Linked DNA regions of Homo sapiens: region 1 is linked to region 2. A link means that fine-mapping ties the variant in region 2 to the expression of a gene that starts in the linked region. Tissue or cell type: fibroblasts. Region 2 holds a variant in brackets; the other region holds the start of a gene. All regions are shown on one strand. Distances are between the middles of the regions.

Region 1 (8,180 bases), 140 kb after region 2:
CAATAATGTCTTGTAGGTTAGAAAATAAGATAGAAATAAAATATGCAACAATAAATAGGATGGACAAATGAGCAGAATAGAAGCATTCTAAGGTGAATAAAAATAGATTAATTTTTCTCATATAATAAGAAATAAGCATTATGGAGCTGGTGCAGTTATTCAAAGTGAATAAAAAATAGATTAATTTTTCTCATATAATAAGAAATAGGCATTATAGAGCTGGTGCAACTGTTCAGGAAATTTATCAAAAACCTAGACTCTCTCCATTTTTTCTCTCTACAGTCCTCAGTTTTGGCTATCGCCTTTATGTTTACAAAATGGCTGCTGTACCTCCAGGCATTGCAACTGTGTTCCAGGGAGAAAGAGAGAATATGATGAGTCTCTTCTTTTTTTAACTAGGAAGTATCTTTTGTACAGGCTCCGCCTTGTGGAAAGTAGATTTCTGTTTACATGTCACTGGCCAGAACTCTTGTCACATGGCCATACCTAGGTACAAGGAGCCTGGGAAATTGACATATATATTTTTTCTAGGTGATCTGCTTTCCCAAAGAAAAACAGGACTCCATTATAAAGCAAATGTAAGAATGGGTGTAGTTTAGATGACAAGCAGTCTCTGCTCTCTATTTTGGAGAAATCCTCTTACTTAAGGAACTAATCCAAAAGGAAAAGCAAACAATGTCCTTGGCATAAAGATTAAGAGACAACATTACACAGGGTACAAGGCACTGGAGTGAGACTCCTAGTCCTAGCTCTGCAGCTGACTTGCTGGGGAACTGATCCTCAGTTTCCTTCCCTTTAAATTAAGACATTGGAGTAAATAACATGTAAGCATTTTAAACAACAAGTAAGTCTGTAAAGACTGAAGGGAATTAACATTTATGACAGATTCCTTAATGTGCAATAGCTCATTTAGACCTCACAACAGTATCTCCCTTTACCCTGGGGGATGCTAAATCTCAAAGCAGTCAAATAGTGTTCCCAGACCCACATCTAGTGAGTGGCAGCCAGAATTTCAAGTCGGGTCTGTAGGCCTCCAAAGCCAGAGGCTTCTTTCTACTGCCCATCCAACCTTTCTCAAAAGGCAAATAAGGTCATGCATTTTTATTTACTGAATTTTAAGTAAAGCAGTGTCTTTTGAAGCGGGCCCAGTGCCACTTGCAGCAGAATCACCTGGGATGTCTATTACAAATGCAGATTCCTGAACCTTCTCCACATGAACTGAAGCAGACTTGCTAGGGCCGAGGGAGACCCAGGAATCTGTATTATTACAAGCTCTCCAGGTAATTGGAGAGACTTTACAATTTGGGAACCATGATTTTAAACTAATAATTTAGTGTTCCATTCTAGTGTAGTTTATTTATGGATCTGTGGCTCATGGAAATTTCCTCCTAGTATCAGGAAGATACAACTTAAAAATAGTCTGTTTTTCCTTCCTATTGTATCCACTGAATTCCACGGAAAATGTTAAGGAACTGGAGGTGTGATTAACACTGATTAATCTAGGCTCCGTACGTCAAAGGCACAGACTGACATGAACATACATGCTGATTAGAATCATACAGAGCTGGAAGGGGATGGGCAAAGAAATGGCATTAGCTAAATATTTACTATGTTCCAGACACTGTACCAGACACATTACGTCATTTAAGGGGCCCAAGACAAGTGATTCAATCCCTTTTATTTATAAACGGGGTAGGTACTATTATTATTTACATTTTAGAGATGAAGAAGCTAATGGCCAGAGAAAAACAGTCACTTTCTGAGATCATTCATTCATTCATACAATAAAAATCTCATTAGCTCTTATCTTATGAAAGACATTGCAAATAGAGCAGCAAAAAGGCAGTCTAGGGACCTCAGGTGGCACAAAGTCCACCAAATCTCCATTGAAGAAACTGGAACTGAGAGGGCAAATTGGGACTGGAGCCTGCCAGAAGCCATCTCTCTGGAATCCCTCAGCCTGAGCAAGAGGGGAGTTTGCTGCTGAGGCTGCTGGAGCTGCGGTGTAGAGCAAGTTGCAGGCCTCTGAGCCTGTTGGAGGTTCAGAAAGGTTAGCTGACTTGCTTAAGTAAGTGTCCTAGACAGGAGGGAGAAAGCGCGCGGGTCTCAGATCCCAGCTCCAATATCCACGCCTTTTCCCTTTTCATCTCCCGGAAGGAAGCCTTCACAGGTGGGGAAAATGCTCACCCAGTGACTCTAAAGTAGTGCACAAATTGGCATTAATCAGAACCATTCTGATTCCTGCTATCAAGGTTTATTTAATTCTAAGCTCAAATGACACAGAAAATAAAATTTCCTCCTTAAAAGGTTCTGCGGAAAAATATTCTCTGTTCTACGTAACAGCCTCCTTGGCTGTGTTTGTGTCTGAAGAAAGGACTAGTCTGACAGGAAGAATTACAAATCTGGAGCTCATTTTGGCGTCGCAGAGGGAAGGTGGGTGGAGCGTCTCGCAGTAAATTAGGAATTCAGAATGAAAACGTAGAGTTTATTTGGGTTTTTAGTGACACCTCAGGATTATTATACAGCAGTGTCAGACACAGCTCAAAGTAATGATGACTGCTCCCCCTCCGCCCCGCGGGAGCTGGGTGCTAAGAAGGGGGAACCCCTCCTTTGAGGGGTTGGGGTGGGGATCCTCCCTTTCCAACCTGGATCGGGAAGGGGTTTGAGAGGAGTGCGGCTTGGATCCCCATCCTGGATCTGTGCTGGAGGGAGGCGGGAGGCTATTTGGGGGTGTGTTTGGGCTCAGGATCTGGGTCTGACGCTGGGATCTGAGGACTTTCTGGGTTTGGAACTGGGTGGGGGAGCTGGGTTTGGGGTGACCGCTGGGAGCAGGAGGAAATAGGAGAGTGAGTCGCATGTGAAGGGCACTGAGGAGGGATCTTCGGGGGAATGCTGAAGTTGATGCGTGGACTTGGAGAGGGGAAGTTGAAGTGGATGCAGGGGCCTGGCGCTGCAGCGGATCTGGGTGGCATGTGCTGGGATTGCCAATGCGGAGCTGTGAATGGGGTCAGGGTGGGGCTGAGGCAGTACCAGATCTTCCGCGCCTAGAGGAGGTTAGAAGAAAAGAGCGTCGAACGGCCACAGCCTTTTTCCGAAAGAGACTCACACAGACACACCCATCGCTCTACCCGGCCCTCCGGGGCTAGCGGCTGAGCGGTGCTGGGGCTGGCAGACCCCGCCCCCACGCGGCCTCTCGGAGCCGGGAGCCGATCGGGCCGGGGCTGGGGTCTGGCGGCCCAGCCCCCGGGGAGCGTGGGGCGTGGCCAGAAACCGGCGCTCGCGGCTGCGGATTGGCTGCCTGGCGGGCCCGCAGGCGGGGCTCCCGGCTGGGTCCCGCTTGGCAGCTCGCGGCGGCGGGGAGGCGGGGCCGGCGGGAGCCCGGCAGCCAATGGACGCGCGTCCTCCGAGCAGTTACAAAGGGCCGGAGCGAGGCCGCCGCGGCGGCTAGGGAGGTGGGGCGAGGCGAGGTTTGCTGGGGTGAGGCAGCGGCGCGGCCGGGCCGGGCCGGGCCACAGGCGGTGGCGGCGGGACCATGGAGGCGGCGGTCGCTGCTCCGCGTCCCCGGCTGCTCCTCCTCGTGCTGGCGGCGGCGGCGGCGGCGGCGGCGGCGCTGCTCCCGGGGGCGACGGGTGAGCGGCGGCGCGGCGGGCGGGCGACTGCGGGGCGCGCGGGCCGGACCCGGCCTCTGGCTCGCTCCTGCTCTTTCTCAAACATGGCGCGGGGCCGGGGGCGCAGGTGGCGGCGCCGGGGCCCGGGCCGGGCTCTCGTGGCGCCGCGCGGCTCGGCGGCTGCCGGGCGAACCGCAAGCGGGGAGCGGAGGCGGGGCAGGGGCGTGTGTCCGGGCGCGGGCGGACGTGTCCGGCTGCCCGAGGCCGCCCCGCTCGGGACTCCCCGGGGAGGTGGAGTCGGGCGGAGTCGTCCGAGGTCCGGGGCTGCCCTCTGGGGTGTGAGTGGGCGAGGGCCAGGGGCGGAGAGTGCGAGGCCGGCGGGGACTGGCAGAGCCGTGGCTGCCCGCCGCCGCCCCCTGGGCACGGCGTGACCTTGTTCTGGGGACCCCCGCCCCAAGAGGGTCCGTGCCAGAGGCTGCCGAACCCGGGGCGGGGTTTGAGGTTGGGGTGGAAGGCGGCTCCCGGGCGGGGTGTGAGCTCCGAGCCTCTAGGGCTTCGTCCAGTGGGAGTCGGGGGCGACGTGTGGTGAGACCCCTGGGTCCGCAGGCCGCCCTGACTCCCGCCCGGCTCGACCCGAGCCGACCCTGCTGGAAGGGGCTGCTCCTCCAGCCAGGGGGGCTTTGTGTGAGAAGAAGGAAGCGCGGAGATGCGCGGAATGTTTCTTCTTTCGTGCGTCTGGGGAGTGTTGAAGTGAGTCCAGTAACCAGACGGCTACGGATTGTTTTCATAGTGGAAACTTGAACGTTTGCTCATTCTGCGGGTTTTGGAAATTTTGGGAACGACTGTGAATTGATTAAACGCTTTTTATTTCCTCGAAGGAACATCACTCACGTTGTTCCTTTTCTTGAGTGACAGTTAATAGTTTGATTCAGACATCTGTATAGCTGGTTTTCAAGGAAGACTGTTGGCTGGATTTTTCAAAATAGTAAATCAGGTTGGGGTAGGTGGTTGGTATCCACAAAGGGATGAGTGAAAAACTTCGTTAGCAGCTGAACTGAGACACTAGAAGCTAAAATACACAGCCTCAGTGTTAGCAACTAAAATGCAGTGAAAGTACATTTCTGTTTCTGAAACTGGACAAAAGATGTTGAAATTTTTTTAAAAAATCAAGACTGACGGTGACGATTATAATCAGTCCTAATAGCTACCGTCTATGTATTGTGCATTACTACGATGTAAATGCATACACTATTGTATAATTACATTATTTAATCACCACAAGTAAACTCCCAGGAGTAGTGGCATTTGCCCCACTTTACAGATGTGCAAAGTGGGGTACAGACACGTTAAGTACCCAATAACTTAAGTGCTAAAGCTAGGATTTTCACTCAGATCTCAGTTTCCCAAACCTGTATGTCATATATATATATAAATATGTATACATCATACTATCTGGCGTAGCCCATTTTTCTTCTTCAGTCGTCTGATGAGCAATTGGTCTTTATTATCCACTTTGGATTCTGTCCTCATGATTTGAGTATCAGATAGGCTTCATTCCGACTCTTAGCACATTGTTGAGTCCCTTCACGTGGGCCTGCATTAGAGGAAACAATGGATTTTTGACATTGGCCTAGGGAGGAAGGCAGGATAACTGTGTGGACATTTGGGAGAATCAGTATAGTTAGGCATGAAACACAGGTAACATTTCCACACCGCTATTAACTTGAATAACACAGTGCACTCTTTTCCACCAGAAGTAGCACAAGAAGCGTTCATGTATTCAAGTAACAGTAGTGGACTTAGTTGAAGACACAGAACATTGCTCAGTCCATGTCCTGGAGGAGTTTACAGTCTCCATGGTATGCACAAAATACAAAGCTGTCCAGGTGCTTATTACTCTAAGCCCAGACTGCCTCAGCTTGTCTGCCTCCCCTGTTGGTTATGATGATGCCTCAGTCCACCCTTAAAAAACATTCTGAAAAAGGTCAAATGCTTTTTATTTCCTCTGTAACTTGGCTTCCCTTTTAAAGACTTGCACCTTTTTATGTTCTGAGTATGTTTTAATGTTCTCTGCCCAACTTCTGTCTCCAACATAGGTTTCTCTAGGGAAATTGATTCCTTATCCCTAGTGCACAGTTTAGTACCACTATGTCTATATGTATATCCCATCTGAGAATGCTATTTGCTTCCTTTCTGCCATTTCATAACTTTTTTTCTTTGAAAACGTGCCCCCAATCCAACTCTTCTATGAATGCCTCTTGAATGTCTCCTCCTTTCTTGGTATGCAGCCTTCAGCTTAATCCTGCCTGTTATCCTCCAAATCTAGTTGCTTTCCCATGTTTTTCTCATCTAGGCTTTTCTATGGCTACTGCCAAACTAATCTTCCTCAGCCTTCCCCGTGAAGGTTTATAAGATTTCCCATTTGTATTCAGCACTTAGAACAACACTTAGCAGCTTATGATTGGGGCCATCTCTGAGTATCCTACCAGGGATCTCATTTCTCATTACTGCAGACCTTCGAGCAATTTCTCTTTCTCACTGACTCCTGACTGTTCAGCCTTTTCACTACACATTTAGTTTTGCCCCTTTTTTTGGGAGTGCGAGAAGTTCTCAGCCCTGACTTCCTGTGCTGGTTTAGTTCTTGAATTCTTTGTCTTCCAGAACTCTGCAACACTTAACAGTTTGTGTTGTCCATTTCTACTGCCTGTGCTGCTACTTAACTCTACTTGAATGCGTTATAGGTACCCAGAGGACAAGATTCATGCCATTTCTTTCTTTTGTGGCCTCAGAACTTAGCACTGTGTTTTATATTCTATTCCACATAAATGCTTGTTGATTTCTATTTGAGCATTCCTTTAATATTTATACTGTTTTATGTAAGTCCAGTTTATGCAATATTAACTTGTAATTCCGTATAAATAATCAGGAAAAGTTGTATGGCGTGTTGAAAGCAATTGGTTATTTGTCCTACCTTCACCAGCAGTTATGCAGAAAATGGGGCAATACCTACTTTTGCCTAATTCATGAGATTGTGAAGATCACATGAGAAAGTGGTATTTGAGTTTGAGGTTGCTATTCTGTGTTGTTGCTAAAGAGCAGGACTGATGTTCAATAAGCAGTTCCCACTGGGCCATGTGTGTTTTGGTTAAACATCCTTTCTGATTGGTTGGTACCCTTGTAGTGCCAGTTGTTAAATATTTTTAATATCATTTCTATAGGGAGGCATTAGTATTCAAAAAGGGAAATGATTAGTGTAAGCTGGAATGATTGGGGGAGGCTTCTTGGACACTTTAGGACTTACACTGACTTTGAAGGGTGGGTAGAATTCAGAGGGGGATTTGATGAGTGTGAAAGTTCTTTTGAAGTTGTGTCCCCAACTGTCCTGGGGCCTACTCCAAGGGAGGAAACAAGGCTTTTACTGACTGACTGGCAAGTTACTCTTCAGAGTTAGGTTCCTTATTCTGTACTGTGGAATTTGGATGTATTAACCTCTATCATTTTTTCCCCAATCCTAAAAGCTATAGTACATAGCTGGAAACAAAACATAAAAGTAATCAAAGTGGAATGAGTGAGGGAGAATAACATTATGGGATGCCCAGTAGGACTAGGCATTCAAATGGTGGAAGTCCTAAGTATATTATCACTTCAATTTACAGATGAAAAAACGACTCAGGTGAATTTCTTAGGGTGGCACAGGGGCAGAACAGAGACAGGAACTTTGATTTTCTGATTCCATATCTTGTGCCCTATATGGTGCTTTAAAATGTGAAGGACTTGGAGGTGGGAGTGGGACAGGGTTGGGATAGGTGGTTGGCATCCACGAAGGGATGAGTGACTTCCTTAAGTGAAGTAGGCCTTGAACTTCACAGAATTTATGAAAAGTGAATTCTAAAGGTGGAAGGGAGGGGGAATGATTAAAGCCTTAAAGTTCTCAAGGAAAAGGTCAATTTTTTTTTAATTGCTGATAAAAGGACCTGGTATATACTTATTGATTGAGAAAAGTAGGCCTATAGTAGTTTGGAAGATGGTCTTGAGTAAGTACAGTTAATTGAATTGGGGTGTAGTTAGAAGGCTTTGGTTTAGAATATTAGATGATCCGCTTTGTTGTTGAAATTAAGAGAGGAATTGACATAAAAATAATCAAGAGGAAGATAAATCTTGTTCCTGTGAGGAGGGCCGCTCATGTAGGGAAGACCCCTGTCAAAAGGTTCTAGGCCTTAGTTGAGCAGTTACAGGGACTCAACACCATTCTTGTAGTGTCATTTTATTGCACCAAATATGTTCATGTGTAATAAATGGAATTTTGAAAATGCCATTATCCTATGGATGGCCCTTCTGATGTGAGAACGTGTCTCTTCAAACCACAGAGCCCCTTGCAAATGTCGACACACCTCTTGCCTTTTGCAGTTCTTCCTTGGTCATGGCTTACGTAACACAGAGTTCTCTGAACAGATGGACTGTGGTTTGATATCATGTGATTGGGTCACATCTTTGCTTCCTGCTTTTGGAATTGAGGGCAGATGCTGGCATATTTCTCAGGGATTTTTTAATGCTTTGTCCCATAGAACTAGC
Region 2 (8,180 bases):
TATGAGCTTTCATTAAGGAATGAAGTGGCTTTATTTGTTTAATATTTGCAAGTGTGGGCTGATATCAAATTGCAACTGAATGTCTTCATTTTCTCGGCGGAGGGAAGTTCTCTAAGATGCCCCGCACTGGTTTAGTGGCTCGGATTCCTTGGTTCTAGGCCTGGTCACAGGAGCTTTGCCAAGTCCCCTCCATTCTCTGGACTTAGAAACTCAAAGTGAGTATTCCGCAAAGTGAGGAAAAGGCTGGCTCATCACGGAGATAGGGTGGCTGGATTGGAAGCCATGGCTGATGCGCCCCATTTCTAAGAGTGGTTCCATTTGAGACTGTGTTGGAATGGTATGCAGCTCAGTTTATGTCTGTGCTCAGCTCCTGTCATCTCTGCACTGTTGCTTTAGTTCATGGAATGGCTGAGAAATTTTTCATACCTGGAAAGAGTATTGTAGCTTTGTTTTAAAGAAATTAATTCTGGCCAGGCATGGTGGCTCACATCTGTAATCTCAGCACTTCAGGAAGCCGAGGTGGGAGGATCTCTTGAAGCCAGGAGTTCGAGACCAGCCTAGGCAACATAGTGAGACCCTGTCTCTACAAAAAAAAAAAAAAAAAAAACTAAAAACTAAAATGATCTGGGTGTGGTGGCATGAACCTGTAGTCCCAGCTACTCAGGAGGCTGAGGCAGGAGGATCGATCACTTGAGCCCAGGAGACCACCATGCCTGGCCAGAATTAGTTTCTTTAAAACAAAGCTACAGTACTCTTTCCAAGTTATGAAAAATTTCTCAGCCATTCCATGAACTAAAGCAACAGTGCAGAGATGACAGGAGCTGAGCACAGACATAAACTGAGCTGCATACCATTCCAACACAGTCTCAAATGGAACCACTCTTAGAAATGAGGCTGCAGTGAGCTGTGATTGTGCCAGTGTACTTCAGCCTGGGCAACAGAGTGAGATCTTGCCATAAAAAAAAAAAAATTAATTCTGCCCCTGCAATGTCTGTTGCATGCAACCTCTCCCTTCTATCTTCTTGCCCTGCCTGGCTTCAGGCCTGTGTTACCTCTTTCTGCTGGGTTGCTACAGCAGCTCCCTGGCCAGCAGGATCTCCCATCTCTCTGTCCTCTAGCATGGCTTCTCACTGTGAGTCAGAGTAGCTTGTCTAAAACACAGGTCCCATCATGTCACATCCCCTGTCAAAACGCTTCCATGTTTTCTGTGACGCACAATGCATTCCACACTCCTTGGGTTGCAGTTCAAGGCCTCTTCTCCTCTCACATCCCTCCCCGTACCCTGGCTCTACCACCCTGAACTGCTTGCTGGTCTCTGAATTGACCATGCATGTTCCCTTCTCCAAGCCTTTGCTTGCGCTGTTCCTCAGCCTGCCCTATGGAAATCCTCTGCATTTTCACCTTGATAGACTTGTTGCTTAAACTGTGGTCCCTGGACCAGCAGCATGGGCATCATCCAGGAGCTCATTAGAAACAGAGTCCCAAGGCCGGGCACAGGGGCTCACACCTGTAATCCCAGCACTTTGGGAGGCCAAGGTAGGGTGATTGCTTGAGGCCAGGAGTTTGAGACCAGCCTGGGCACCATAGTGAGACAACATCTCTATAAAAAATTAGCATGATGTGGTGACATGTGCCTGTACTCCCAGCTACTTGGGAGCCTGAGGTGGGAGGATCGCTTGAGCCCAAGAGGTTAAGGCTGCAGTGAGCCGAGGTCACACCACTGAACGAACCCCAGCCTGGGTGACAAAGGGAGACTCTGTTTCAAAAATAAAAAAGAAAAAAAAGAAAAGAAATACAGGATCCCAAATCCTGCCTCAGACCCACAACATCAGATCTAGACCCACAGCATCAGATCTAGACCCACGGCATCAGATCTGTACCTTAACCAGGCCCCCAGGTGATGTGTGTGGCACTCAAGTGTAAGCTGCAGTGCTGTGTAGCTTGGAGGGCAAGTGCTGAATCTGGGCAGTCAGATAGAGCTGGCCTGGTTCCAGGCTCTGCATGTATCAGTTGGTGACCTTGGACAATGTACTAATCCTTTTGAAACCTCAGTTTCCTCATCTGTAGAGTGAGGAAACTATAAACGAAATAACGCCCCAAGCTCTTAGCACAGTGCCTGGCACATGGAAAGCCCTTAATGAAGGGGAGTGGCCAGTAACAAGGTTCCATCTCAGTGCTAGCTGATGTTGTGCCTAAGCTGTCCTGTGTCCTCTCTCAGCATTGCTTGTATTGGGTTTATTCCATCAGAGGTGAGAACTCATTTGTAAGTCCATCTTGCTGAGGATGGGAAGGGCCAGGACCAAGTCATTTGTGTTTGGAGTTTAGAATCATTGACCTTCCAGTGGAGGGAGATAAACAATCATAATCTGATGTGGGGAAAGTGAAACATAGCTAAACAAGGACTTTGCAAAGTGGGTGGGATGGAATTCATTCCAGAGTTTCTGCCCTTGGTAGAAATGGCCATTCTGCCTGTTGTAACCTGGGGGCTTTCTCATTCATCCATTTGTTTACCCACTTTTATGTAATATGTATTGACTGTTCTCTGAATACAAGCAATGTGTGATATCCTGGGCAGAAAATGAAAAGCAAGATAGGCTTGCTGCTTGCCCTCTAGGATCCTATAGTCTAATGGGGGACATTGATGCTAAATAAAGGATTGTACAAAAAGACTCTTTATGTTTATAAATGGTAGAAAATGTTAGAAAGTGCAATGAGAGCTATGAAAGCACATGCCAGGACACTCTCATCTGTACCAGGGTGTCAGGAGAGTCTCCCCAAGGAATGGGATTTAAGATGAGATCTGAGGGGTGAACAGATTTAGCCAGGAAAGGAGGTGGGGATGATGGGCTGGAAGAGGAGTGGAATGTTCCAGATACAGAGAAACAGAATGAGGAGAGGATGGAAGAGACAGCCTGAATGTGGCTCGAACACGTTGAGGGAGGAAGGCAGGGTGAAGTTTCTGGGATGAAAGCAGGGCCTTCGCCCAGGAGCCGTTTTTCCTAGCCTGGCCCTGGGGGAGCATCTTGGCTTCCCACCCTCGGTCAGTCCTGCAGCACTACCGCCCAGGGCCACCCGGGGTAAAGGCCTTTGGTCTAGGTAGAGTGCAGTCAAGCCCTGGATTCTACTACCTGCCTTGCTCCTGCCTCTGCTTATCAGACAGTGAATTGCTTCAGGGCGGGGGCAAAGGGTCTCTACCTTTACATAGCGTAAGAGAAGAGAATTTAAGAGACTTGCAGTAAAATGTCAGGAAGGCAGAGTCAGAAGAAAGCCCGGAGCCAGCACAAAGAGCCCCTGGTCCACCTTGGCCTCTCAGGGCCTCCCAGGCCACGACAGCTGCCTGGCAAAGAGGTGGTGGAGGCAAGTGAGGAAGGTTTCTAACAATTGCTGTCTGCGGTTAGACTCCAGTCAGTCCTGGCTTTGGAAAGCTTCCTCCCGTCTATACAACGAAGAGGTCGGACCAGCGCTAAGGTCATCCAGGTCTGACATGATCTCTTTTTATTTTTTATCTCTCTCTGGATCTCTGTATTGAGAATGTGCATCCGTAAACATAGGAAGAATTCTCTTGCCAGGGAACAGAAATGCGGTTTGGGGAGGAATAACTCGGGTGGGAGGTTTTTAGATGCTTTCACTCAGGGGAGCAATTCCTTTAGACATGGTTGTACCCGTGAGACGTGGGGGATGCATTACGCCTCTCCTGTCCAAGCCATTCCTTTGGAGACCTGCTTCTCAAATGGGTGTGCTCACAGTCCTTGGCTGTGTGACA[C/G]TAGCATGCGAAGAGCCACATTGTTTATTTCCTGGAGGATTTTACTCAGTGGTTGGTAATTTGTGGTGAGGAGACCAGTAACAACTGGGGAATAATTTGGAACATTTTTATATTATTAAAACAAACACACACACATGTTTGGAGTGGAATTCAAAACTTAAGTGCTTTTAAAGATAAAGCAAGAGAATTAAATTTTCAAGGTCCTGGGGGGCTCTTTGGCTAGACTCAGGCCCTCAGGTTTATCTGATGACAGAGTGCTTTAGCAGAGATGATGTTATATACAGATTTGAGGTCCCCAACTTGTGGGGGATATTTAGAATTATTGCAAAGGATACATGGACATTTTCTGTCTACAGATACCTAACACCTGTGTGTTGAGGGGGCTATTAATGCTTTGATATTGACAAGATGGAGATGGTCACTGCCCTCCAAAGCTTTGGATTAGAACTGTCAGCTCCAAGAGGGAAGGAACTTGTCTATCACTGCTGGATCTCCGGCACTTAGAATAGTGCCTGCTGTACAGCAGGTGCTCAATAAATGCTTCTGGAATGAATAGAAATGTGTGTGTTGATGGCCATGAGAAGCTTTCATTTCTCCATCCACGTTTACCTTTCCAGGAATAGCGTGTGGAGCTGCTTTAGCATGGAGATCTTGGGTGGAATGTGAAGAATGCTGTCATGCATATGCATGTGGGAGGCTGGTCAGCCTTGCTCAGGTTCAAGATTTCCAAGAATCACTCTTTGGAGGCAGCCTTCCACCCAGCGTGGTCCATGCTGCATAGCGTAGGCTCCTTGTGTGAGAAGGCACAGTTCACCATTTATGCACCTTAGGTAGCTAGGACCCACTGGGCCTCACTTCTCACAATGCCTGCAAGTCCCCCCAAACACCTTACTCCCATCAGAACCCACTGGGAACCTGAGGCCTCAGAAAATGCTGGACTTTGGGGATCAACTATTCCAGCTCCCCCAAATTGCAGACGGGAAGATGGAGGTTCAAAGAGAGCAAGGAACTTCCTGGGAGTCACACACATTTTAGCGATGTGACTCCCAACAGGTTCCTTGTTCTAGAACTGGGTCTGGAACTACGTCTTCTGATATCCAGGTGGGTGGCATCACTCCATTTTGAAATTCCCCAGTGCTGCTTGATCACATCCGTACCATTCTCAGGGATGTGCTTGACAGTAGTGTGTGGTTAGAGCTGAGCTTTGGAAACATCACATGAACTTTAAATCCTGGTTCAACACTTTTTTTAATTATGTGACTTGGGCACATTGCTCAGAAAGAGTGTGGGTTTCCTCATCTGGATGGTGGTGGTGGGTGATGGGTATAGGAGTCCTACCTCCTGAGGCTATATGAGCTACTCAGCAGGTAATGCCCAGGAGTGCTCAGAGCCAGGGATGGGGAACCCAGTGCTGAGCCATCCATCCCACAAAGTTAAGGTCATGCCCATCCCGTTCACCCCAAATCTCCATGACTTGCAGTGCCAGGCATGTGACGGTGTGTGCTTGATAGTCATTTGTGAATGAACAAATGAATGAATGAACAAAATGGACAGAATATGCTTAGCACCTGACATTTGCCCTGTGCCACCACCCTGAGAGCTAAGTATTGCCACCTCTATTTCCAGATAAGGAAGCTAAGGCTCAGAGAAGTTAAAGAACATGCCCAAGATCACCTGGCTAGTACGTGGCTGAGCAGGGACTTACATACAAGTTTCTCTGGCATCAAATTCCACGTCCTTTGCCCTGCACCATTCTGGGGGAGGCTGGTCCTCCTGGGGTTCCCCCGAGGTCACCTCCCCTCCCACCCCCCCATTCTTGGTCTCTAGTTAGGAGGTGTCCACTGGGTTTTCATCTTGGAAGGTCTGATTCCCTCTCCCATTATTCTGGTGGTCCACAGGCTGTTCCTCCAGCAAACATTTGGAGACTGTCAAGCTGTACTTTCATCTAAATTAAACAAGAGTCAGCCTGTTTCAAAATATGACTTCAGGGTCACCATCTGTTCTGGCTGTTCCCTTAAACTCAAATCCCATTTTGGAGCCAAATGGGGCTCCAGCATCCCACAGAGAGTGTGTCTCTTTGCACAACTGAGCAGGAAAGTCTGTAGAAAGACACAGTGTGTTTGACAACAACCCTCGGACAAATTTCTCTGGTTATTTCTTTTCCCCTACTCAGCAGCATCAACGTCATTGCATGTGAACCACAGGTCCCCACCACAGATTCAAATGCATTCCTTTCTACATTGGGTACCTAGTGTGTACCAAGCTCTGTATGAGGCCCTTTCCCATGCCATCTTCCGGGTCATGGGAGAGAGTGGCCTGGATCTTACAGTGGGGGGAATACAACATGCCAAAGCTGCTCGAGCTGGTCACACCATCAGTCTGGGCATCAGTTTTCTCATCTTGGGGACATTGGACTGGGTATTTTCTGAGGTTCTTCCCAGCTCTGAAGGTTACCCTGATTCTTCATCAGCGCCTTGGCCAATGTAGGCGAGATTTCACGGTGCCCACTGAAGCTATGAGCTCGTTCTGACTGCGCTGCTTGTCTGCCCTGGCTGAATTCACACAAGCTCATCTGTTGGGACGCCCCGGGCTGTTCCCAGGGCAGCTTGATTTTGCCCAGGGCATAACATGCCAAGTGCTGAGAGGCTGCAAGAAAGTATGTCTCCTGCTGTTGCCAAACTATCGCCTTCGCACCACATTCCAGATCACCCAATTCCACCCTCTCCTTGGCAAGAAAAAGAAAGGGGACCCAACTGCCTAGGGCAGCAGCTTGGGGTGAAATGAGGATTCCTCCTAAAATGGTCAGCTAGAACCTTCCTCAGGAATCTGCCAAGGCACCCGGTTGCCTGTTGCATAAATTTTAGTCTCCTTGGCTGGACATTTGAGGCTCTCTGACTCCAGTCTCCTAAAGGAAAAAGAATTGAGAGTAGCAAGAGCTGGGAAGTCCCAACCACTGCAGTTAAGGCCTGCAGTCTTAAGCTCCTTCAGCTTCAGTCATCTCATCTGAAAATGGCATAGCCACAGTCCCCACCCCATCAGACTGCCTTGAGGTTAGGTGAGCTAATGCACCTAAGTGCTGAGCTCAGGGTTGGCCTGTTGTGAGATTAACATTTCTAAGTCTGAATCTCTCTGGATCCATAATTCTCTCCTTTTTGCTCCAATGCTGGAGGCTATCTCGGGGTCCCATTTCTCCCATCCTTGGAATCACTCACTTGGCCCTTGTTTTCCTAATTGTGTGGGTTTGCTCATGCTCTGCTCACTCCACTGTGTTCACCTGTGTGAAGCATCTCAGGCCTATCTCCACTGGCCCTTCCTTCAGGTCCCCTTCCCAGTGTCCCCCAGTGGGCGGGGAGTGCTCCCTCTTTAAGCCCCTACAGGACTTTCCTGTCCTTTGCTTATGGCTCCAAGCTCAGGTCACCTGTATCTGGGCCCCGTGTTGGTGTCTGGTCCTTTTTTTCCAGGGGACCCAATTCCTTGTCCTCTTGATCCCCCAGAGCCCAGCCCAGGTCACCTGTATCTGGGCCCCATGTTGGTGTCTGGTCCTTTTTTTCCAGGGGACCCAATTCCTTGTCCTCTTGTTCCCCCAGAGCCCAGCCCAGCGCCAAGTCCAGACAGGGTTGGAAAGTGGATGCTGGTTGTGGACAAGGCCAGACTGGGCCCAGGATAGAATGAATGATAGTAAGGTCCCCTCCTGACTCTTCTTCTGGGAGGGAAGAGAGAGGACCATTCTCCCCTAGGGAGATGTAAATTATGGCTGCCTTGAGGCCTGTGGATAACAACTCAAGAGATTTCATTGACCCCATAGTATCAATCATGCCAAAGAAATCAAGAAACACCCCAGGCCATGTTTCACTTAGAGAAAGACTTAGAAAGCTCAGAATTAAAATACTCTTTCAAGCTCCTCCTATCATTCAGTGCTCCTCCCAACCCAATGCTGCACCCCCATGGAGGAGATGGGGGGCCTTCTCCACACAGGAGGACCAGGGATCTTACCGTTCTGCTCCTGGGATCTCCAGGGCTGGCCTGTCCCATCCTACCTTGCCCCATGGCCCCAGCTCATGCTCTGACACCCGGATAGGCCATGAGCAGCCTCCCTGAGGCCTCTAGCCAAACCTCAAGGACCCTAACAGTATATAACAGAGAAGGGGAAGCCCGGTTGTTCACATTCTCCACCCAGACCATGTTGCAGAGGGGAGGAAGATGGAGGCAGCTGGAAATGAGTCTGAAGTCTGAGAAGCCAGTGTGTTTAAGAGAGTCACTCTCATCTCAGTGAAGGAGAGCCGAGGGCAGCCATTTTGCAGAAGGCTGCTCATTCAAAGCCTCCTGCTTAGGGAGAGGGGATTGCAGCCCCCAGCAAAGCTACAATCGACTCTGTGTGGTTATTAATATTATATTATATCTCAACAGTGGGGATCAG

What was found. PIP is the estimated chance that this variant, and not a neighbour inherited with it, causes the effect.
Region 1: it holds the start of TGFBR1, and the variant in region 2 is fine-mapped to the expression of TGFBR1 in fibroblasts (GTEx, PIP 0.93).

The regions. Positions count from the first base shown.
Region 1 is chr9:99,101,674-99,109,853 of GRCh38, forward strand. It overlaps TGFBR1 (transforming growth factor beta receptor 1), which reads left to right and starts at 3,440. Exons shown (of 9, transcript NM_004612.4): 1 at 3,440-3,629. The coding sequence starts at 3,533. RefSeq lists silencers at 2,968-3,567, 3,658-4,167.
Region 2 is chr9:98,958,641-98,966,820 of GRCh38, forward strand. The region is part of intron 2 of COL15A1 (collagen type XV alpha 1 chain); the gene reads left to right. Among named protein-coding and RNA genes, the nearest start is that of COL15A1-AS1, 18 kb to the left of the region's middle. RefSeq lists enhancers at 3,115-3,615, 4,116-4,700. The variant C/G (reference allele first, on the strand shown) is at 3,764.